3 separate regions of the Homo sapiens genome follow, and regions 2 and 3 are each linked to region 1. The links come from fine-mapping of genetic effects on gene expression. A gene starts in region 1. Each other region holds a variant in brackets. All regions are shown on one strand. Distances are from middle to middle. Region 1 holds the start of PYHIN1 (pyrin and HIN domain family member 1). Region 2 overlaps PYHIN1 (pyrin and HIN domain family member 1). Region 3 overlaps MNDA (myeloid cell nuclear differentiation antigen).

Region 1 (8,207 bases):
TTCATCCCATTGAATGAGGATAGTTGAATTGGGTCCAGGTGTTAGAGGGAGGTCTGTGAACAAGCAATTGTCTCAGTGTTTAGAGTATGGGCTGTGGAGTGTCAAAGTGCTTGGTTGCTCTTCCCATCCTTTACTGGGGCTGGAGCCTATCCCCCAAAACCTGCCTGTTGTTTCTTAAATCTTCCCACACCCACCACTATGACTGGAGTGGCCTAGGTGTAAATGGGCTGCAGCCTCCCACCTTATATGAATAACTTTCTGCCGCAGCACTACAGTTTCATGCTGGGGCGCCGACCCTATTCTCCTTAACTCTTCTCTTGTCAGCTCTCATCAGTATCCTCTTCCTTGGTGTTGGACCCTGCCATATTTGTCCTCTGTGCCCATAAAACTATCACTTTCCTGAACATCTACATTTTCTCTATTGCAGGAACACAGGATTTATTGGCTGGAATATTTCAATAGTTGCTTGATTTTTCTTTTAGGCTTGATTTGTCTAATTCATTTTCATTTCACAGATCCACATTTCTCTCTATAAACCACATTTTTATCCCACTGAAATCTTTCAATATTTGCCCATTTTCTTTTCAATACATTCCTTGCTTCTTGTATTGTTTCAGAAGACTTTGAATAATCTGCATTCTTTTTTTTTTTTTTTTTAACCTCTGGCACTTGTGTGTTCCTTATATCTTACATTTCAGAAGTATAAAACATTTTCATGCTTCATGACTTTGCTAATTCTCTTCTCATTGCCTGGAAAGCCATTCCCACATTCCTCTATCTGACTGCCTCTCCTACAACATTTTAGACTCAACTGAGAGTTTGTCTTCTAGAAATTTTCAGAGTGCCCTTATGGACAGAGTGTTACTCCTCTGGACCTCTTTAGCACCAGTGCACTTTAGCACATGATGACACTCAAAGCATGCTATGGATTCCTGTTTCCTTTTTAAATTAACATAGCGCTTTGGGAGGCTGAGGGAGGCAGTTCATGTGAGGTCAAGGGTTCAAGACCAGCCTGGCCAACATGGTGAAACCCCGTCTCTACTAAAAATACAAAAGTTAGCCAGGCATGGTGGTGGGTGCCTGTAATCCATAATCCAAGCTACTCAGGAGGCTGAGGCAACAGAATTGCTTGAACCCGGGAGGTGCAGTCTGCAGTGAGCAGATATCATGCCACTGCACTCCAGCCTGAGTGACAAGAGCAAAACTCCACCTCGATAAAAATAAATACAAAAACAAATATTTTAATTATAGAAAACATGTATTTGTGTACCTCTTGTGTAATTTAGATATTTAAATTCCTGGGGCTGTTAATTGCTTTCTTCTTGAGAGAACATGAGTGTCCTCAGATTGATAAGCATAGAATGAAGGAAAAAATATATACAAAGACATATAGTGAAACTGAAGAACATAAAAAACAAATAAATACTCCATAAGCCTCCGAGAATGAAGGCTTTAGATCACCTGCAAAGATCCAAAAATTAGATTGAAACTGATTCTCAACAACAAATCTACTTGAAAGAGGAGAATGGAATCATTTTTATATAATGCTGGCCCAAAGTCCCATATAAATTGCTAAACAAAAAGTTTAGAAATGGGAAGTTTTGATTTGTTTTGTGAGTATGACAACACGATTTATTTGCAAAATGAAACCAGATGTGAGCTTACAGAAGGCTATGTATGATTTTTATTTATTCCACTTAAACACAAATATTCATATGTTTTGATGCTGAAATATTAGTGCTTTTGCTTTTGTAGTAATGACACTGATAACACTGGGGTTTCTAGAAAAATGTGCATTAAGTAATCTTTATAAACCTCCAAGTTCTGATTTTCAAAACATACCGAGCCCCCCAGGTACAAAAGAAATGCTCTCATCTTGTCTTGAAGGAAAAAATAATTTTAAAACTAGAATTTCAATCTAAACAAAGTGATATTTAAACATAAGATCCTCAAAAACTATTCTCTGAACCTGAAGGCCTCAGTAGTTTTTCCAGACAAAGATGCACACAGAAACATTTTTGGAAGTACTTTTCAATAGAAAATTAAAAAAAAATTTTAAAAAGCTGCAGGCCAAAAGACAAGTAAGAATGAAAAACGAACTTGATTATGTGTGCCTATGACTTAAAAAGAAAGCCCTGATCAAAGAAAAGAGAAACAGAAAGTATACCAACATGGTGGAGGGAGGGAAGAAAAAGAATATGAGTTTACTAATGTAATTGTCTTAAAGGGTGAGATGGAAATATAAGTTTTAAAAACAGACAAGTAGGAGAATATAGAAGTGTTATAAATTGAAGTGAAGATAGCAGAAGCAGGCCAAAATATGTTAATTATTAGCCTATACATAAAGAGGTTAACTAGTTAAATGACAACTTTTATCAAATTTGATTTAAAATTTCTATATGTATGTTGTCAGTAAAAGATCACTGAAAGATGAAAAAAAATTTAAATTATCATGCAAGGAGAAACTAGAAGAAAGCCAGCTTATCTATGCTAGAATCATTTTTAAAAGATCTTAAGACAAAGAGTATTATCAGATACCACATGGTAAAAGGTTGAATTCCTGGGAAGATACAATAATTTAAATTATAGATTTATCTAATAATAATAAATGTATATTATTTTTCATTATTGTATAGTCCTTCATGATAATATAATGTTATATAATATATTTATCTTCATATACACACATATGTACACGGTGCCACAAATATATATATTTATATGTGTATGTTTATGTTTGGAAACATGTATGCATGATCACATACACACATAATATACATTATACAACTATGCATGTGAGCATATCTATATATTATATATATGAATTTGAGAGGAGTACAAGAAAATACCGTCTTATAATAGGAGGTTCTATATTATATCTTCCAATACTAAATGAACAAGGTAAAAAAACATTTTTACAAATTTGAGCAACATAATTGATAGCAATATTTATCTAACATATATAAATCCTGAAATCAACATTTAAAATCTCATATTCTAGTCAAGTACACTGAGATATTGCACCAGGCTATACAGAAAGTCTTCTAAAAATTCTGAACTTTGACAATATAAATCTATTTCAAATTGACTTCCATGCCTCTCCCCTATACATTGCCACTAGAAAAATAAAACATCATTAACTTTCAGGAGGGCAGGAAGTAATCTTAAAATGAATAAAAAACTGCCTTTCACATCTGGTATAGAATGATGCTAATGTAAAAGTTAAACATACTTATGAAAATATTGACACATTTGAATTATTTGAATTATTTGAATAATTGTGTTTGCAAAATGGATACATTTTCTACTATGTGTTTGCACTTGTAGAATAATATTATTTACAAAATGTTCTCACATATGTTTTTGTGTGAGAACATGTTTTGTAAAATTGAGATACCGTAAAATACAGCTGTATGTCTAGATGTGTTTTTTACTTAATATTATTTCCTGATACTTTGTGCACATCATTATCTTGTCTTATTTTATCTTCTACTTTCATTTTAGGTTCAGAGGGTACATGTGCAGGCTTGTTAAATGAGTAAACTGTGTGTCGCTGAGGCTTGTTGTCTGGTGATCCCATCACCAAGGTAGCGACATAGTACCAGATAGATAGCCTTCCAACCCACATACTGCTCCCACCTTTCCTCTCAAGCAGTCCCCAGCGTCTACCGTTCCCATCTTGTGCCCATATGGATTCAATGTTTAACTTCCACTTATAAGTGAGAACATGCAGTATTTGGTATTCCTGTGTTAGTTCACTTAGGGTAATGTTCTCTAGCCGTATCCATGTTATGCATATACAGCGTGGAATACTATGCATCCATAAAAAAGAATGAAATCATTATCTTGTCTTTTGCCCAGACCCCAATGGCCACCAAGCTTTCTAACCTCAGAGAATATATACTCAGAGAATTTGTTTTAAAATCTGCAATGGTCAAAATGCATATTCCTTCATTCATGCCCCAGTTGTAGAATAAAGGATATCTACTATCTTTGAAGTAAGTAAAGAATTGGAAGTATTAACTGCAGTTTTCACTTTTCTGAATATAGTTGATACCAGCCCTACTGCCCTCACCCCACTGCCCTGAAGAACCAATATCGATTTTTCCCTTGTGATTTTGTGGCTTTCAAGGAAGCATCTAGATCTTTTCTATAAAAAATACCCACAGTACTCACCTTACTGGGAATTTCTTCAACAGTAGTCCAGATCTTGAGATCTTCAGAAATGTAGGAAATGAGGATTGTTTTGAATAGGGAAATCAGTCAGTAAAGCTCTCAGAAACTGAAATACAGGATGTTATAATCTCCTGAAATGCTAAGAAAATGAAGTATTTTCAAAGACAACAAGGGAAAATGGCCCTTCTTAGAGTCACTTGACTAGTGCTGGCTTCCTCATACTCTGCTTTGCCCTGGGGAGAGAGAAGTTGTGAAACAACGTGCAGACTCCTCCCACCCATATTTTTTGCTTTCCATCCTGTTAGAGAAAATGAACAGTTTCTTTCCTGTAGGTATCTTAATCAAAGTAAAATTTGTATCAAAGTTATATTTAAAATTTTTTTTCTTACAAATGTTGATATCTGAATGGAGTTCCAATCTTAGAACTTTCTTAACCAGCAGACTTACATGTGGGACATTAGGGACCTCTATTCCGATGAATGATTGTCAAATATGAGAGAAGCAAGGTGGTTTCTTCTCCCTCCTTTCCTGTGCGGTTGCAGGGGGAGATCTTGGTAGGAGCATCTATTGCTACCAGTACTTTACTGCATCTCCTGCATGGGAGAATGTCTGCTATGAAATAGCAGTTGGTTTAAATACTACCTGAAGCATTCACCCAGTTATTAATAGTTGACAAACCTAGGGCTTTCCAGATCAGAAAGTTATTATGAATATATAAATCCTTTCTCAAATATATATAAAGGAGTTTAACACTAGCTGTCCTCTTGACTATGACTAGGTTATTTTACCTCAATGATTACATTCATGATTCCTCAGGTTTCCTTCATTATTCATGGAAAAACACAAGTGGATAGTGGGCTCACAACATGACAGCATCGAAGCCTTGAAAATCCTGGAAAATGCACTGAACTTCTGGTAGACCGAGAGTCCTGTTAAACCCTTTGCTCAGCAGTATTTTTTCTGTTAAGGGCAGTGGGTGTCCTTCAGAGTACTAAAACCCCAAGATGTCAAATAAACGACACCAACTGGCAGATGATGTTGTGTTAACCCAGCAGCAGATCTGCAAGCAGGATGTGGCCATGAGTGGAAAATGGGGCCCGAAATACAGCTGTAGGGGAGAAAACAAGTTTTTTTTAAATTTCCCTTTTTAGGTTATTAGTTGACACTCTCCTGAAAACAAACGTCAAATTAACAAAAGAAAAACAAGCAGTTTATTAATGTGTGCTCTACTCATCACAAGGGATAGGCCTCAGTTCAAAAGTATTTCTCTCTCCAGGCTGTGGCTTAGAAACCTTGTTTAAATAGTATTTCAATAAAGAGCCATACGTTCTATATAGTGAAAAGCAAAGGAGAAAGCAGTTCCAGTCATTTAAAAGGTGGGAAAACGTGGGAAGGTAGTAAAATCTGTTCCCAGATTCCTCAGGTTCCTGGTGGCGCCTTCTCCGGGCTGAAAAGCAAGTGCTTTCTCCAGTAAATACGGATTTATGTCCTGCCATCAGGCAAATAGTGCCTGAGGCAGCATGTTCCCCTCCATTTTCTGTCTTTAACTTAACAGTCCTAAGTATTTTGAGAAGTATTTTTGGTTTCCTTCACAAATAATACAAATGATCTGAGGCCATCTACAGAACAGAAGAAAGCTGATCGCCTTAGTACAAACTAGGGTCATGGAGAGGATAGTTGATGTCTGGATTTGGAGCCATATGATAATTTTATCAAAGCAAAAGTAAGTTAAGAAAAAGCAAGGAGGATCTGGAAGGATGGCCACAAAAATACCTTCGAGTGTTCATGGTTTTCTTTTATAGGTTTACGTTGCTGTTAATGTAGAGACACTAAGTTGGTCTTAAGATAGTAGGTAGAGAGGGATATTAGGAAGGTCAGGTTACCCCAATTCAAAGGTCAGAGAGTAGAGGAAACTTGGTAGAAATTACCATGTTTCAGGACATTTTTGTTTCCCCTTTTTGGTAATCATTTCATGTAGAGTAATGCCTTTGGTTAGGACTCCAGCATACAACATACAAATTACTGTCACCAATGAAGACAATTCAGAACATTGCTCCATAATCCATACTGTGCAGATAAAATTGTAATAGATGAAGCAAAGAAATGCTTTAAAAATGTGCATTTGTGCTGATTCTGAAGCAGTGGGCAATAATTTGCAATTTGTGCCATCACACAGAAAGCTCACTAATAGAACATACGAGAGCTCCTGATAAGGGGGTAAAAGTCTTGGATGGACCTTCATGACTTTTTATCATCTGAAGTACTAATTCCGATGCTCATTCAAAGTCCTCAGGAAAAGTTCCCACCCGATTAATGTTCTAACCAAGATGTTAGTAAATTACTGCCTGTGGGACAATACTAACACACCATCCACTTTTGTAAGTAAAATTTTATTGAAACACAACTGTGATTACTCACTTATGCATTGTCAATATCTACTTCATGGTGCAATGAAGAGTTGACTAGCAACAGAGTCCATCCGGCTGCAGAGTGTAAAGATTTTGCTGTATGGCTTATTATAGAAAACGTTTGTCAATCTGTACCCAGTCGTCAGTCTAGGAGACGGCAGAAAGCCTCTAAGGAGAAAAGCAAAAATAATTACTTATTTTTATTTTTGCTTTGTTAAATCAAAAGCAATGTTAAATCAAGTTTAGCCTAAAGCTGCCTTCTTACATATTCTAAGTTCAGCCTAAAGGTTTCTCATACAGCGTGAATGATGGCCTAAATGGAAGTGTAAACAGACTGTAGTATATGCTTGTGTCAATCACCAAGTTTTGGCCAATCAAATGTGGCCAACTTGTTCAAACCGCGTTCAAATAAGGCAAACTCCGAGCTATAACCAATCCAGCTCTTTATCTCATGTCCATTTTCTGTATCTCACTTTTCTTTTTCTCTTCATAAATCTTCCACTATGTGGCTGTGCTGGAGTCTCTGAGCCTACTCTGGCTTGGGAGGCTGCCTGAATAACATTCACTGCTCAGTTAAACTCTTTTAAATTTAAGTCAGCTGAAGCTTTTCTCTTACACAATCACACCAAGAAACCACGTTTGGGACTTTTAAAGTCCATTGTAAACCCCTGGATAAAGCCTTGTAATAATTATTGTGATCTCAGAGAGGAAAATGGAAATGGAGAGTGTTAAAACCTTTCTCTAATTATCCCTAAGAGTCAGAACAAAACCCATTTGTTGAGAGCCTCAGTTAGCAAGATTGCTTTATGCATTCATGGCCATCAGCCACCTCAATCAGGTGCCTTCTCCTTTTGTCTCTCAAGTAAATAGATTTCTCTTTCTCAAGGAAGAGGGAAAGGTGATTGAGTTTTAAATGTTGAACCAATCTTATATCCCTGAGATAAAACACTTTTAATGATGCATTATAATTTATCATATTGATAAGTATATTGGTAAGTATAATTTTTCAATATTTTAAAAGTGTTTTTGCATTTATTTTCATGTGAGAGTTGGTTTTTGTTTAGTTTCTGTCATATTGATAAGTATATTGGTAAGTATAATTTTTCAATATTTTAAAAGTGTTTTTGCATTTATTTTCATGTGAGAGTTGGTTTTTGTTTAGTTTCTGTCATATTGATAAGTATATTGGTAAGTATAATTTTTCAATATTTTAAAAGTGTTTTTGCATTTATTTTCATGTGAGAGTTGGTTTTTGTTTAGTTTCTGTGTAATATCTTTAATTTTGGTGTGACAGCAAACTGGCATTTCTAAAACAGATTGTATAGACATGGTAAACTTTTATCCTCAAATGTCTGATGGAATTCATAAAGTGTCTATTCCCAAAACTTTCACTACGGAAAGATTTTTGTTACAACTTCTCTTTCTCTAATAGATATAAAAATATTTAGTTGTTTTATTTCCTTACAAGACAGTTTTGGTAAGTTGTGTTTCACAGGATTTTTTTTGTAATACATTTTTGTTTTACAGGAATTACGTAAGTAAACTTATTTGCATAATATTTTTCATAATTTTTTATTACCATTTTAATATCTGTAGTGCCATCCCTTTACATTCCTGATACTG
Region 2 (8,207 bases), 47 kb before region 1:
AGTCACCAAAGTAGCATGGTGCTAGAACAAAACAGATACATAGACCAATGGAACAGGTTAGAGAACCCAGAAATAAAGCTGCACACCTACAACCATTGGATCTTCAACAAAGTTGACAATAACAAGTAATGGAAACAGTACTTCCTATTCAACAAGCAGTGTCAGGATAACTGGCTGGTTATATACAGAAAATTAAAACTGGAACCCTTCCTTTCACCATATAAAAAATCTACTCAATATAAAGTTAAAAAAAACTTATATATGTAAAACCTAAAACTGTAAATGCCCTAGAAGAAATCTAGGAAATACTATTCTGGACATTAGCCTTGGCAAAGACTTCATGACAAAGACTCCAAAAGCAAATGTAGCAACAACAACAAAAATTGACAAGTGAGATCTAATTAAAGATCTTCTGTACAGCAAATTAGACTATCAACAGAATAAAAAGATAGTCTACAGAATGGGAGAAAGTATTTGCAAACTATGATTTCTGAGAAAGGTCTAATATCTAGACTCTATAAGGAACTTAAATCAACAAGCAAAAACCAAACAGTTTCATTAAAAATGGTTAAAAGCCATGAATAGATCTTTCTCAAAAGAGGATCCATGCAACTAACAAGCATGTGAAAAATGCTCAATATCACTAATCATTAGAGAAATGCAAATCAAAACTACAGGGAGATACCAGCTCACACCAGTCAGAATAGCTGCTATTAAAAAGTCAAAAAATAACTGATGCTGGTGAGGTTGTAGAGAAAAGGGAACATTTATACATTGAGGGTGGAAATGCCAATTATATGCCATATTTTTTTATATGGTGAAAGGAAGAGGTCCAGTTTTAATTTTCTTCATACAGCTAGCCAGTGATCCTGATGCTATTTGCTGAATACTTCAGCGACTGTTGAAAACAGTTTGGAGATTTCTCAAATAACTTAAAACAGAACTAACATTTGACCCAGCAATCCCATTACTGGTATATACCCAAAGGAATATAAATTGTTCTACTAAAAGATACGTGCTTGTATATGGTTTCTTTGTTTGTTTGTTTATTTATTTCTTTATCTTTTGATTCAGAGTCTCGCTCTTGTCCCCCAGGCTGGAGTGCAATGGCACAATCTTGGCTTACTGCAACCACTGCCTCCCAGGTTCAAGCGATTCTCCTGCCCCAGGCTCCCAAGTAGCTGAGACTACAGGTGCCTGCCACCACAAAAGGCTAAGTTTTTGTATTTTTAGTAGAGACAGGGTTTCACCATGTTGGCCAGGCTGGTCTCGAACTCCTGACCTCAGATGATCCACCCACCTCAGCCTCCCAAAGTACATGTGTATGCTTATTGCACTTTTCATAATAGTAATGACATGGAATCAATCTAGATGGCCATTAACAGTGGTTTAGATAAAGCAAATGTGGTACGTATACAACATGGTACACTACGGAGCCATAAAAATACAAAATCATTACTGGGGGAACCTGACTCCAATATTTCAATGTAGGTTCTTTCTATTTTCCACAAGTGTCAGCCAGCTGAGAAATAAAGACAGTACAAAGAGGAATTTTACAGCTGGGCCACGAGGGGTGACTTCATGTATCGGTAGGACCATGATGCCCGCCTGAGTCTCAGACCAGCAAGTTTTTGTTAAGGGTTTCAAAAGGGAGGGGGTGTAAGAACAGGGAGTAGGTACAAAGATAACATGCTTTAAAGGGCAAAAAGCAGAACCACTAGTAAAGGTCTAACAAAGATCACATACTTCTGAGGGAACGGGACAAAGGGTAAAAGCAGAACCACTGATAAGCGTCTATGTTCAGCGGTGCATGTATTGTCTTGATAAACATCTTAAACAACAGAACACAGGGTTCGAGAGCAGAGAACCGGTCTGACCACAAATTTACCAGGGCAGAGTTTCCCCAACCCTAGTAAGCCTGAGGGTTCTGCAGGAGACCAGGGTGTATCTCAGTCCTTATCTCAACTGCACAAGTCAGACATTCCCAGAGCAGCCATTTATAGATCTCTCCCCAGGAACGCATTCCATTCCCAGGGTATTAATATTAACATTCCTTGCTAGGAAAAGAATTTAGCAATATCTTTCCTACTTGCACATCCATTTATAGGCTGTCTGCAAGAAGAAAAATACGGCTCGTTTTGCCCAAACCCGCAGGCAGTCAGAGCTTACGGTTGTCTTCCCTAAAAATCGCTACTATTCTGTTCTTTTTCAAGATGCACTGATTTCATATTTTTCAAACTCACATGTTTTACAATCAATCTGTACAGTTAACAATTATCACAGTGGTCCTGAGATAAGATACATCCTCAGCTTATGAAGATAACAGGATTAAAAGATTTAAGTAAGGACAAGCATAAGAAATTATAAAAGTATTATTTGGGAACTGATAAATGTCCACAAAATCTTCACAATTTATGTTCCTCTGCTGTGGCTCCAGCCAGTCCCTCCATTTGGGGTCCCTGACTTCCTGCAACAAATCATGTCCTTTGCAGGAACATAGATGCAGCTGCAAGGCATTATCTGAAGCAAAATAACACAGGAACAGAAAACCAAATACCACTTGTTCTTACTAATAAGTAGGAGCTAAACATTGAGTACACAAGGACACAAAAAGAAGCACAATAGACACTGGTGGTTTACTTAAAGGTCGAGGGTGGGAGGAGGGTGAAGACTGAAAAACTACCTATCAGGTACTGTGCTTACTACCTAGGTGACAAAATCATTTGTATGCCAATCCCAGCAACATGTAATGTATTGATGTAACAAACCTGCACATGTAGCCCCTAAATCTAAAATAAAAGTTGGAAGAAAAAAATATGAATACCATATGACCCAAGATTTATTCTTCTTGGTATTTATGCAAAATAATTAAAATAGGAGTTGAAGAGATATTACTAGCGCTCCCATGTACATTACAGTATTATTCAAAATAGACAAGATGTGAAAACTACCTAAATGTCCCAGTTTTGAATGAATAGATAAGAAAATGTGGTGTGTATATATAATGGAATGTTATTCTTTCTTAATGAAGGAAATTCTGCAATAGTTACAGCATGAATGAAATTCTGCAATAGTTACAGCATGAATAAAACTTGAGGGCATTATGCTAAGTGTAATAAGCCACTCATAAGAGAATAAATACTGCATGAGTCCACTTATGTAGAGTATCTATAATAGCCAAACTTACAGGAGCAGAAAATAAAATGGTGGTTAGCTGGGGCTGGAGGAAGGGGGAAATGGAAGCTGCTATTCGATGGGTATACAACTTCAGATATGCCAGATGAATAAGCTCTGTAGATCTGCTGCACAACACTGTGCTTATAGTTCCTAATACTGTATTGTAAACTTGAAATTTGTTAAGTGGTTGATCTCACGTGCTCTTATCATCATAAAATTCTAATACATGCCTCACTATGTGGTTTTAGAGAAATAATGTTGCTAACAGTGTTGGATTTGCCTCTTCCAATCATAATCATTTGCTAATACACTAGAGATCCTCTCAGAGCTATTTCACTGCCTCTTGCAGAGAACCACTTGGTACAAACTGATCTCTAAGATGTCTATGAGGGTAGGTTAGATCTCTGTGAGCTGTTCTGTCTTTCTCTTTGGTTCACACATTTCAAAGTTAGGGGAAGCCCCAGATTCTCACCTACTTGTGGTCCCAAGTAGGAGCTCTGATGTGTAGTAAGATATAAAAATATAAGATAGAGTGGGGTCAAGGCATTAGAGGTTGACGCTGTTTAAATTAAAACACAGTGAACAGGCTAATTCTTTCGGGTGGAAGATAATTTCTTTCCTATCTCATTTACAGACA[T/C]GACTGTCCTTAGAAGTTAAAATTTCAGGGAGAAATCAGCAAACACATTAGACAAAGCACCTAAATGACCCATTCTCTAACTGTTAATTACCATCATCTACATACTCAAGAGTGGTCCATTATACCTAGTTTATGTAAAGTAATATGAATATTATGTATTTGAGTAGCTCAGAATACCAATATCATTTGCATATAAAGCAGTTATTTTCTCAGTGTCCATAAGTCAAATTTGAATTTGGAGGATGTTTTAGCAGTTTGTGACATCTTCTCAAGATGAAATCTGTTTCCTAACTAGCTGAATGATGTGATTTTGACCACTTCACTCAATCTCTGAATTTCAGTTTTTTCACTGCACATGAGGAAAAAATTCGGTGGCTTCAAAACATCCTTCAAAATTTGATTTTCCCAAGTGAACCAAATTATCATATATATATATATATATATATATATGTATAGACACACACACACATATGAATATTAGCAATGATATTTGGCAATAAAGAATGTCTGAAAAAACTTATTCATGGTATCTGAATCTATCATACTTTCTTACCTTTATGTCTGATAAAAGACATAATCGGAAAGGTGCAGGGCAAGAGGAAAAAAAAACTACATTTATTCCTTGGATTGTTGGTCCAAACCATAAAGGCAGAACTTTAATGCCTCTTTTCCTTAGATTAATTGGGCATATATAGCTTCAGATCACCACAGTTCTCTGATGAGTACAGAAGATTGCTATTTTGCATTTATCTACTTTTTCATAATTTTAAGGGTGAGAGTGAGGCTCTTTTCAGCTTTCTCCATCTTAGGTGGAATCCGTCTTATTCATTGTTTAATTTGCATCTTATCCCTGTTCTCCTAACATTAGCACACCTAACCCAAGCCAGAACAACAGACCTGGATGTTAAATCAAGGACTATATAAGACCACCTAAGTGTCACTTCGAAAGTAAATTTGCTTTCTGTGCCCTTTTTTCTTTATATATGGAGAGTAAAAAGGAGAAAACTGTCAACCTTCTAGAGCTACGGTGAAGATTAAATGACACAAAATAATTACACCAGGTGCCAAATATATGATCCATAAATACATTGTAAGTTTTAGATACTGACTTTCTGCCATTCTACTCTAAAATAAATTAATTATTCTTCAGTTTGCCTAAGTTAACTGTCTGCCTGGGCAACTTTCTGATGGATTCATATAGTGGAATGTGAGAAGAGGGAATATGGTGGGAGAGCTCCTGAGGAGCTGTTGGTGCTGAAGGAAATGTATAGAACCAGATAATTTACATCAAACAGGGCCAGGAATTCCTCTAACATAGGCAAGTGCCTTCATGCACATCACCAGAAAGTGCCTGGTTTGGCAAGAAAATTACCCAATTATTCCCCCTCCAGGAGTCCAATTCTGAAAAGATATCTCTAGTTTTGGCTAGAGCAACTCCTTCCCAGGACACAGTGCTTGCAACAGAATCACAGGCTGGATTTCACCCCTACCTGCCCCTTGGTCTGGATTCTTTGGGCAGGGCACAGTCAGTTCAGTCTTAACCAGGGCCTATTCCTTAAAGATCCCATCCAAACTATAAATCTGTGTGCCCCACCCTGACTTGCAGGCCACAGTTTATTTGCTTTTACATAACTCACAGATAGATTAAAGAAACTCCTATGGAAGCACTCTTTAAGAAAAAAAAGTTTATTTTTTTTCAAATTATGAAAATTCTGAATGCAAAATATGATATGAAGAAAATGCATAAAAGTAAAACTAATGAAATAAAATGCACCCTTAATACTCCATTTCCTAGAATTAATAGCTGGTATATATATATATATATATATATATATATATATATATATATATATATAGTATTTCAACCAGATATATATACATATATTATTTTCTGTGCTTTGATCTTATCTTCATAAACATCATTACCAATGGCATCAGGTTTTTAGGTGGAGGACTTCAGGCAAAATTTCCACACTTGAGTAAAGATTGAACAGTAGTTATTTGATATCCTTGTCCTTGGTGACCTTGAAGCATAAAGAGATAAAAATAAACCCGTTGAGATGCAGGGAGTCATACATTTCTTTCTTCAATCACACTGCCTCTCCTCCCTGTGAGCCACATCTCTTCTTCTATTTCCATCTGAAGCACTCTTTTCTCATTCTCATCTATCTCCTTTAATGAATCCTGTCCTTGGAGTCACATCTTCCCCCTCTGTTGGGACCATGAAATGCGATATTCACTCCTACCCAGCATGAGCCCACGTGAAAGGGCAGGAGATGTCAGGGAACAATAAGATAGAGAAAGGAGCTGGTGTGTCCAACGACAAGGGCTAAAGGGAAACTTCTCATTGGGCAGAAAGGTAGGAGGAGCGTACAAAATGTATTCCTGGTGCAACTGCTGTCAAGGAAGGCTTGGGACTTTTGACTAATGGCCCTGAGAACTGGAGCAATCAGAAAGCCTTTGCATTTTTGTGTGTCTGAATGTGTTAGCCTTTATTCTGATCTTTTTGCATTCCAATATTAGCCTTTATTTGTTCCAAGAATCCCACATGAATATATGTGACAAACAGCATAAACTTTGTCATGTAGATCCAACCATCTCTGTCTACACAGAGATGTTTCTCACAAAAGACAGCTACCTTTGTGTTCTGATTTGCTTAGGGACATCCTTGGTAATTTAGGACTGTTATGAGGTATGTTGGCCACCCTCAAATTTAACTCCCTCTTCTGTTCATTGTGTACCACAAATAATTGAATGAGCTAATATGTGAAACAATTGGATTATAAAGGATTAATGAAGATAATTATTGAAAAACCCTTAGAATAGTCTGAGTCATTCTGCATACTCAGTAAATGAGAGACATCATTATTTCCATTCTATTAGGTACTTTTAGTCACATCCACTGTTTTAACAACTATGTCTCTATTGATGTAATTCAGTAAAAGGCCCAGCCAAAATTACCCAAGTTTAAGCTCTATATATCAGATGGATAATTCTTAGATGTCCTGTGGGAATCTCAAACTTAACTTGTCTAGAGCAGAACACGTTTTTTCCCTGGAACATGGTCTTTCTACTGTGCTCATAAGAGGTGTATTGAAGAGTAAATGCAATCATATACATAAAAACATAACTTTCACTTCCAGCTTTACCCAGTAGAAGCTCAGTTAGAAAAATATTGTTTTCATTGTTATTTAAAGACTATGCAAGTTTTTTATGTCAGCCTGATCCAGAAATGAATTATGATTTATGTTGATCCTCTTGTGGAAAACCCAGATAAAGTTGTAGTGATTGGGAATAAAACTAATAGCTTCGTTTTTTCCCATATAGTAATTCTGAGCCAGTAATATCTCCATTTGTTTTCCCAACCATTCTGGGCTCTTTGATTTAGGAGAGTCATGACAAAAGATGAAAAATAAGAATGGTCTGCTTTTGACTTTAAATCCAAAAGCATAGAAAAATTTATACAAATTAATAATTAATACAAACACAGTATTATTGGGATGATCTATGATATACAAAAGCAAGGACTTCTTTCAGAGCTAGTGAATCACAGAGGAAGTAACAGGATGTATTTTCCAGGCATCCTGTGGAAGTGCTAGATATCAAAGAAGAAATGGCTATATGGGAGGTTAGGTGTAGGAGACATAGGACCCTAGCTGAGATTCCTGGGCTAAGGGAGGTTTAGATGCAGTCAAATAAATCTAACGGCTATAGAAACAGACCATAATGCGTATTTAAAATGGTAGAACCTAGGCAAACTTTGCGTAGTCCCTTCAAAGCCAAAATGCAGGAAAAATAAGTTCTTTTCCAGAATGTTGTCCTGGGATGTTCAATTATGTCTATTAAGTAACAGAAAAGTGGGTCTGAGCTGGTAATGACTACATATGCGTTCCATCCATGGTCACCTAAGCCAAGATGGCTAAAGAGGACGTGCTAGCTTTGACTCTCAAATAAATTACATATAATTTATTGAGGAAAATGTGATTCTCGGGCTTATCAAAAACAACAAAAACATAAACAAACCAAAAAACGACCACAAATTGAGAACTCCTGTATATAGGTAATCTGTCTTCAACTAGTCTGTATGGTGACATGTCTTCAACTAAAAGAGTGGTGACATGATTCTCCTCTTGCCTTTCTCTTTCATCACCTTCCCTCTCACTGTAGATCATAGTCTTCTGTTCCCTAGGTGGAGGTGACTCCACTGGTCATATCATGACCAAAAGCAGGCTGGGATTCAATTGGAACACTTAGATATAAATTCATTAGTTCACCTTTGTCTGATGTTCTCTGGACAAGAAATCTATAAACTGTACTTATTATCAAGTGTGGTTGAAAAACACTTTATTATTAGAATTTTAATAAATGTTCTAAATAAAATAAAGAGAAATGT
Region 3 (8,207 bases), 82 kb after region 1:
TAGCATATTTTATTTTTTAAAGTTCATTTCTGGCTGTTGCAAATGCATATAAGTTGGATTTATATACTGATCTCACTTTCTATCTTGATTAATTTTACTTTAGTAGTTTTCTTATTTTATTTGTTATAATTTTTTGCAGATAATTAACATATATGAATAGAGTTTATAGACAAACAATTCTTTTCTAATCTTTTTTTATTTTATTTATTGTTATACTAGATAAGAACCTCAGCTACATGGTAGGATAGAAGTGAAGTGATCATCCACCTTTTTTTGTTGCTGCTGATCCTAAACGGCGAGAAGGTAGTCTTTCATCAACATTAATTAGCTATAGTTTATTTGTTGCTGCCGTTGTGAGGTAGTGAGCATAGTACCCAACTAATAGTTTTTCAATCCACATCCTCCCCTCTCTCTCCCTCTTTAGTACTCCACAGTGTCTATTATTTCCATTTTTATGTCCATGTGTACTCCCTGCTTAGCTCCCATTTATAAGTGAGAACATGCAATATTTGGTTTTCCGTTCCTGCCTTAATTTGCTTAGGATAATGGCCTCCAGCTCCATCCATGTTGCTTCAGAGGACATGGTCTCATTCTTTTTTATGGCTTCATAATACTGCATGGTGTATATGTACTATATTTTCTTTATTCAGTCCACAACTGATGGGAATCTAAGTTGATTCCACGTCCTTGCTATTGTAAATAGCGTGGCAATGAACATACAAGTGCACATGTCTTTTTGGTATAATGATCTTATTTCCCTTTGAGTATATACCCAGTAATGAAATTGTTGGGTTGAATGGTAGTTGTGTTTTAAGTTATTTGAGAAATCTCCAAACTGCTTTCCACAGTGGTTGAACTAATTTACATTCCCACCACCACTCTATAAGCATTCTCTTTTCTCCTCAGCTTTGCCAGTCTCTGTTGCTTTTTGGCTTTTTAATAATCATCATTCTGATTGGTGTGAGATAGTATCTCATTGTAGTTTTAATTTGCATTTCTCTGATAAACAGTGATGATGAGCATTATTTCATATGTTTGTTGGCTACTCGTATGTCTTCTTTTGATAAGTGACTATTCATGTCCTTTGCCCATTTTTAATGGAGTTTGTTGTTTTTTGCTTGTTATTTTAAGTTCCTTATAGATTCTGGATATTAGACCTTTGTCAGATGCATAGTTTGTGAATATTTTCTCCCATTTTGTAGATTCTCTGTTTACCCTGTTGACAGTTTCTTTTGCTGCATAGAACCTCTTTAGTTTAATTAGATCCTACTTATCATTTTATGTTTTTGTTGCAATTGCGTTTAGGAACTTAACTAAAAAATTTATTCAAGGTGGATGTTAAGAGGGGTATTTCCTGGGTTTTCTTCCAGGATTTTTGTAGTTTGAGGTCTTACACTGAAATCTTTAATCCATTTTGAGTTAATTTATACATGTTGAAAGGTAAGTGTCTAGTTTCATTGTTCTGCATATGGCTGGTCAGTTACTGAATTTACTGAATAGGGAGTTCACTTACTGAACAGAGAGTCCTTTCCCTCTTGTTTGTTTTTGTCCACCTTGTCAAATATCAGATGGTTATAAGTGTTCAGCTTTATTTCAGAATTTTCTATTCTCCTCCATTGGTCTGTGTCTGTTTTTGCACCAGTACCATGCAGTTTTGATTACTGTAGTCTTATAGTAGAGTTTGAAGTTGGGTAATGTAATGCCTCCAATTTTGTTCTTTTTGCTTAGGATTGCTTTGGCTATTTGGGCTCTTTTTTGGTTCCATATAAATTTTAAAATAGGCATTTTCTAATTCTGTGAAGAATGACATTGGTAGCTTAATAGGAGTAGCATTAACTCTGTAAATTGCTTTGGGCAGTATAGTCATTTTAACAATATTGATTCTTCCAATCCATGAGCATGAAATATTTTTTCATTTATTTCTGTCATCTCTGATTTCTTTCAGCAGTGCTTTGTAGTTCTTGTAGAGATTTTTCACCTCCCTGGTTAGCTGTATTCCCAGATATTTCCTTTTCTTTGTGGCTATTGTAAATGGGATTGTGTTCTTGATTTGACTCTCAGCCTGGGTATTATTGGTGTATAGAAATGCTATTAATTTTTGTATGTTAATTTTGTACCCTGAAAGCTTACTAAAATATTTTATCAGTTTTAGTAGCATTTTGACATAGTCTCTAGAATTTTCTAAGTATAGAATCATATCATCAGCAAAGAGAGATAATTTGATTTCTTCTTCTCTTATTCAGATGCCTTTACTTCTCTCTCTTGCCTGATTGCTCTGGCTAGGACTTCTGTCACTATGCTGAATAGAAGTGGTAAGAATGGGCATCCTTGTCTTGTTCCTAATTTTAGAGGAAACACTTTCAACTTTTTATCATTGAGTGTGATGTTAGCTATGTACTTGTGATAATTGGCCTTTATTGTGTTGAGGTACATTACTTCTTTATCTAATTTGTCTATAAGTTTTACCATGAAAGGATGTTGAATTTTGTCAAATGCTTTTTTTTGCACTGATTGAGATGATCATATGTTTCTTGTCCTTCATTCTGCTAACATACATTATGTATCAGATTGGCTGATTTTCATATGTTGAATGATTCTTATATCTCAAGGATAGATCCTACTTTATCATAGCGTATAATCCTCTTAATGTGCCATTGTATTTGGTTTCCTAGTGTTGAGGATTTTTTTCACATATGCTCATAAAGTATATTGGCCTATATATATTTTTTTCTTGTAGTGTTCTTGTGCAGCCTTACTATCAGGGTATTGCTGACTTCATATAAAAAGAGTGTGAAAGTGTTCCCTCCTCTTTGATTTTTTTGAAATAATTTGTGAAAAATTGGAGTCAATTATTCCATAAATGTTTGGTAGAATTCACCCTTGAAGTGATCAGGTTTTTGGCATTTTGTTGTTGTTGTTGGAAGTTTCTTGATGACTGATTTAATCTCCTTGTTTGTCATTTGTTTTTTTCGGGTGTTCTGTTTCTTCTTAATTCAGTCTTTGTAGGTTTGGCCTTTGTTTTTCTTTTTTTCAGTTCCCTGAGGCATTTGGTTGTTTACTCGAGAGCTTTCTTTTTTAAGGTAAATGCTTATAACTATAAATTTTCCTCTTAGAACTCCTTTTGCTGTATCTCATACATTTTAGTATATTGTGGTTTCATTTTCATTTGTCTCATTTTTTTAATTACCCTTTTAATTTCTTCTTTGATCCATTGGCTATACAGAAGCATGTTTTTAAATTTTCACATATATGTCAGTTTTCCAGTTGTTTATTTGTTATTTATATCTAGGTTAATTCTATAATAATCAGAAAAGATGCTCGTTATAATTTTATTCTTCTGGAATTCATTAAGACTTGTTTTGTGACCTAGAATGTGACATGTTGTGGTCAATGCTCCATGCATACTTGAGGCAAATGTGTATTTTGATGGTGTTGTGTAGAATGTTCTGTTTATATCTGTTAGGTCCGTTGGTGTATTGAGTTGTTGATGTCTGCTATTATCTTATTGAATAACTGCCTGGATAATCTCTTCATTATTGTGAGTACTAAAGTCTCTTACTATTACATTGCTGTATATTTCTCCCCTCAGAACTGTCAATGTTTGTTTTATGTTTTTAGTTGCTCTGATTTTGAATACATATGTAGATGTATCTACAAGTCAGAAAAATGGAATATGATGGATATGATAATCCACACCAAATAAGGAGGGGAAAGCATCTTGCATATATTGGTACCTTTATGCAAATCACCGTTGTTGTCCCCTTCAGAGAAACCAATTACCCCAACGGCCCCCTTCTGGAGGACACAGTTGCATAAAGGAATCCTTTCCTCTAGATCTGCTACTTCCCTAGGCCACAGTATTTGTTCATTTAAGCATGGGCTACATAAATTTAGTCACAGCCTTTACTGCGGACTTATCCTCTGAAGATCACAATATAGACTCCAATGTGG[A/G]TAAGGCCCCATGTGTCTCTCCCCATCTCTAGAATGTGCTTCACAATGCACAAAGTACTCAGCCTCAAGCAGCTCACTATTGATCTTAACAGAACGTAGACAAGACTTTGGGAAAATAATGTCCTTCAAAAAAAGATATTTTATTTTTTGCCTCGTGAATGTCATAAAAGCAAAATGTAATATCTAAAAAAAAGGAAGAGTATAAGAAGAAAATTTTATTCCAGAAAGCAAACTAATCTATAACTCAGTTATAAAAGCTCTTAATATGCTAGAATATATCTACTGAAACATCATTTAAATGAATTACTGAAATTTACAAAATCACAGTTATTAACAACTTAATTGTTTTAAGCGGAAGTTGTTTGTTGCATTTCAGCTTTCATATTTCAATTAACATTCATTGGTCCTTCCTTGTTTTTCTTGGCCTTGATGACCTTTAAAGAGAGATAAGAAAGACATAATGAGACCCTAGATATTGAAATGAAGCTCTGCTTATAGTTCTCCTTTCACCTGCCATATCTTTTCTTCCCATTGGCTACATTATTCTCCTTATCCCCTATGAAAGCTCGTTAGTCACAAAGTTATGAAGATCTACCTTCAAAAAACTCATTTTCCCCCCATTAACTAATCTCTGTTTGTCTTTTTCCTTCCTGAATGGATTTTTGAAATAAACTTCTGTGGTATCCTGGTTAACCAACTACCCATTTTTTTTTAAAAGTTTCGATTTGTAACATTTGCAGAGTCTGGTGGCATACATATTTTCACATGGCTGATTTCAAACTACCACATGTTTAGCAAGCAGTGCATATAATTCCTGAATTTCCAACAGTAAGCTCTCTTCAGTAAGGATATGAGTGAATCCAGCACACAACTTCTAATAGATATCTCTGCCCCAAGCCTAATTGCTCTGTAATGCAACTCCATAGATAGACACCGGAATATTTTTTGCTAAAATATCAAAGTGATCAGGCATTCTTCTGCATAATTTTGTTTCAATTTTTCATGTATTTTCAACAATAAAGTTTCCATTAATTTACTTTTGAAAAAGCCACACTTCTATTTCTTTTTCATCTTTGGGCCTCAGTAGTCCCTTTTTTTTAATCTTTGGGTCCCACAGTCTTCTGCATCTACTGAATTTCAGTTGTACAGAACTCATTACGCTATGTCACACTTTTGGAATTTTCATGTATCATTTCCTTTGCCTAAAAGTCCCTCCAATTTTTACCTTCCTAAAAATAAAACTATCTACCACAGATCAGTTTATTATGATGTGCCAGGTTGTGAGATAATTAATATGTATACATTGTCTGAATGTTTAAACCATCCCAATGAAGTGGAGACTTCCATTATTTTAGAGGACCAATGAAACTGTTTCCCCAATATCAGCCAACTAGTGCTTCTTAAATCCAGGATTCAAATCAGATCTGTCTTATTCAGAACCCTTGCTCTTGAGCCCTATGTTCCCTGCCGCTAGACACATCTTTAAATCAATTAACACTAGTATTGTATCCTTTCTAGAGCTGTATGAATGCCTTTACCTTAATATCCTTCTGAAAATCTTCCAGTTACAAATGCAAGGGCATTGTTTAGGTTCTCCTTCCACTCGCTGGACTCTCTGAGTAATACATGAGGAACCTGGTGTTCCCAAAGCCTAAGCAAAATTATTTGCCTCTTTAGCAAACTCATTCTCCTCTATCCAGTTCCCACCTTGATGAAGCTGTGACTTCCACACACCAGTTTCAGCTTGCGGTCAACTGTTCTCAGTTGAAGGCAGAAGAGTCGAAGTTTATCTCCTTTCTCACACTTGATATTGTGCCATTTTCCACTCCCCACTACATCCATGGATCCTGTATTATCCTGTATTTCATAAATTGTGTTCTTCTTGTGTACGCTTTTCTGCAAAAGAAGATTAACATCCTGTTTCTGAGAGGATTGTTAGTATCATATAGATGAGAAAGAGTCTCATGACAAAGTTAATGCAATATGCACGACAGGAATGACAGGTACAGATCATACATGTGGCTTGGCCTGCCATCTCACAGGGTCCATCTTTTATTATCCAGCATTTTTTTTTCCTGCTTAAGGTATTTTTCTTTCTGCAATTATACAACAATAAATATTTCCCTCTTTTTCTCCTGCTACCACCTTCAGATCAGCTGAGAGTAAATAAAGCACCTAGATATAGAGGAATCAAAAATTCCTATAGAACTTCTTGGCTCATGGTCCTGTGGAAAAACAAATGTATGCTTTCTACAATTATTCATTCAGTAGATTATGAGGAATTTCACTTTATTATTATTTTAATTTTTAAAAATTTCAATAGCTTTTGGGGTACAAATGGTTTTGGGTTACATGGATTAATTATATGGCGGTGAATTCTGAGATTTTAGGGCAGCCATTACCCAAGTAGTGTACATTGTACCCAATATATAGTTTTGTATCCCTCACCTCCCTCCCAGCCTCCCGCTTCTGAGTCTTGAAAGTTTATTAGATCACTCTGTATGCCTTTGTGTACTCATAGCTTAGCTCCTCCTTACAAGTGAGAACATACAATATTTGGTTTTCCACTCCTGAGTTACTTCAGATTATGAGAAATTTTAAAGGAAAAATCTTCTATAACACAATCATTCATTCTTTCTCAGCCTTCCTCATTACTTATTCTTTTCCAATATCTTGTCCCCATTGACCTAACTCCCTCCATTCATACTCTGTAGTGTTTCACACACTTAAGCTATTACTCATCAATTCTGTAATTGCATTTATAAGCAAGATCTCTTAAAGAGAGTGTGAGAAAATGTGGAGGTAAATTTAAGGGGCTATATTGAAAGACATGTATGTAGGGTTATAAAGCAGTCAATCATATAAAATGTTAGTTGAGTTCATAGAAATGTGTAATGTTTTAGAGTGGAGAAAGGGATGGAATGCATTATCCTAACTAGCATCTTGAATTTGGACATGGACATATCAATAAAACTCTGTGCCTTGGAATTATTTTTTTTTTGTAAATAGTATGAAGAGATTGCCTTATCCTTTAAGTATCATGGAATTCAATATTTCTCAGTTGTTCAATGCTATCTTCATAAATAAATGAATAAATAAATAAGATAGAAGGGCAACTGATCTAAGCACAAATGTTTAGATTGTATGGATAGCTGTTGAATGTATTTGCATTTATGAGCATACCAGCCAATCCACTTATTACTCCAAAATTATGTCACAACCAGAATTCAACCTTGGTAGCACAATTCATTACTTAAAATAAATTTATCAAAACTCACAGTAAAATTATCAGTGCTCATTGGGATGGAGCTGAAAGAGATGATGTTATTAGCTTGCTCCCGTTGATTTGGACCCTGTATTGTCCTAGTTCATTGTGGCTGACAACAGATCATTACTGCCAATATTTCTTACTAACTTTTTTTCAAAGTCCCTACATTTATTTTGGCGTAAGAAAGTTAATAGGTCACTTAGTCCTATTTCCTATTTTGTGGGACAACTTCATCACTATCTCTAGTCAATATAAATTCTTGTGTTCCAATATTCAGACAGTAAGTCTGGCAAATTAAGACATTTATTTCCAGGTAATGGTAGAGAAAATTAAAACAAAATTAAGGGTTTACCTTTTGTAACATAAACAACCCATACACCATTGTTCCAGATGCTTGCTTGTAAAGTTGACTGATCTTGGGAGTTTTATTTGCTATTTCGATAATTCTGTTTGGGACCTCAAAATTTTGATTAAAGTCAGACACAGATGATGCTTCCTTTATTTCCATTACTCCTTTACATTCAGAGTAATCAGATATGGTAATGACCTTCTTCCTTACAAATTTCTCTTTCAAGTTGATGTCGAAGACTTTCACATGGAAATATTGAGTCTTACTGGCCACTGTAGCATGAAACATTGTGCTTTTCCCATTTTCTGGGGACTCGTATTTAAATGGCGCTGTTGCTTTCAGTACCACCACTGTCACTGGGTCGTTTTGGGGAACATTTCTTCTTGCATCCACCTGCCGTTGGGCCTGGGTTTCCTGATTCTGTGTTGGGCAGACACAAGAAAATAAACTTAAAACTTTGAGCAGGAGGCCGGGCGCGGTGGCTCACGCCTGTAATCCTAGCACTTTGGGAAGCCGAGGCGGGTGGATCACGAGGTCAGAAGATCGAGACCATCCTGGCTAACATGGTGAAACCCCCATCTCTACTAAAAATACAAAAAAAACTAGCCGGGCGTTGTAGCGGGCGTCTGTAGTCCCAGC

Evidence for each region. PIP is the estimated chance that this variant, and not a neighbour inherited with it, causes the effect. A credible set is the group of variants that fine-mapping cannot tell apart.
Region 2: its variant is the best candidate, but not a certain one, in a credible set for the expression of PYHIN1 in whole blood (TOPMed, PIP 0.74).
Region 3: its variant is the best candidate, but not a certain one, in a credible set for the expression of PYHIN1 in whole blood (INTERVAL, PIP 0.74).

Annotation. Positions count from the first base shown.
Region 1 is chr1:158,927,746-158,935,952 of GRCh38, reverse strand. PYHIN1 (pyrin and HIN domain family member 1) reads right to left here and starts at 4,401. Exons shown (of 9, transcript NM_152501.5): 1 at 4,177-4,401.
Region 2 is chr1:158,974,332-158,982,538 of GRCh38, reverse strand. It overlaps PYHIN1 (pyrin and HIN domain family member 1), which reads right to left. Exons shown (of 9, transcript NM_152501.5): 9 at 5,480-5,838. Among named protein-coding and RNA genes, the nearest start is that of PYDC5, 24 kb to the left of the region's middle. The variant T/C (reference allele first, on the strand shown) is at 3,815.
Region 3 is chr1:158,845,368-158,853,574 of GRCh38, reverse strand. It overlaps MNDA (myeloid cell nuclear differentiation antigen), which reads right to left. Exons shown (of 7, transcript NM_002432.3): 5 at 7,572-7,988; 6 at 5,659-5,847; 7 at 4,073-4,385. The coding sequence ends at 4,338. Among named protein-coding and RNA genes, the nearest start is that of MNDA, 18 kb to the right of the region's middle. The variant A/G (reference allele first, on the strand shown) is at 3,952.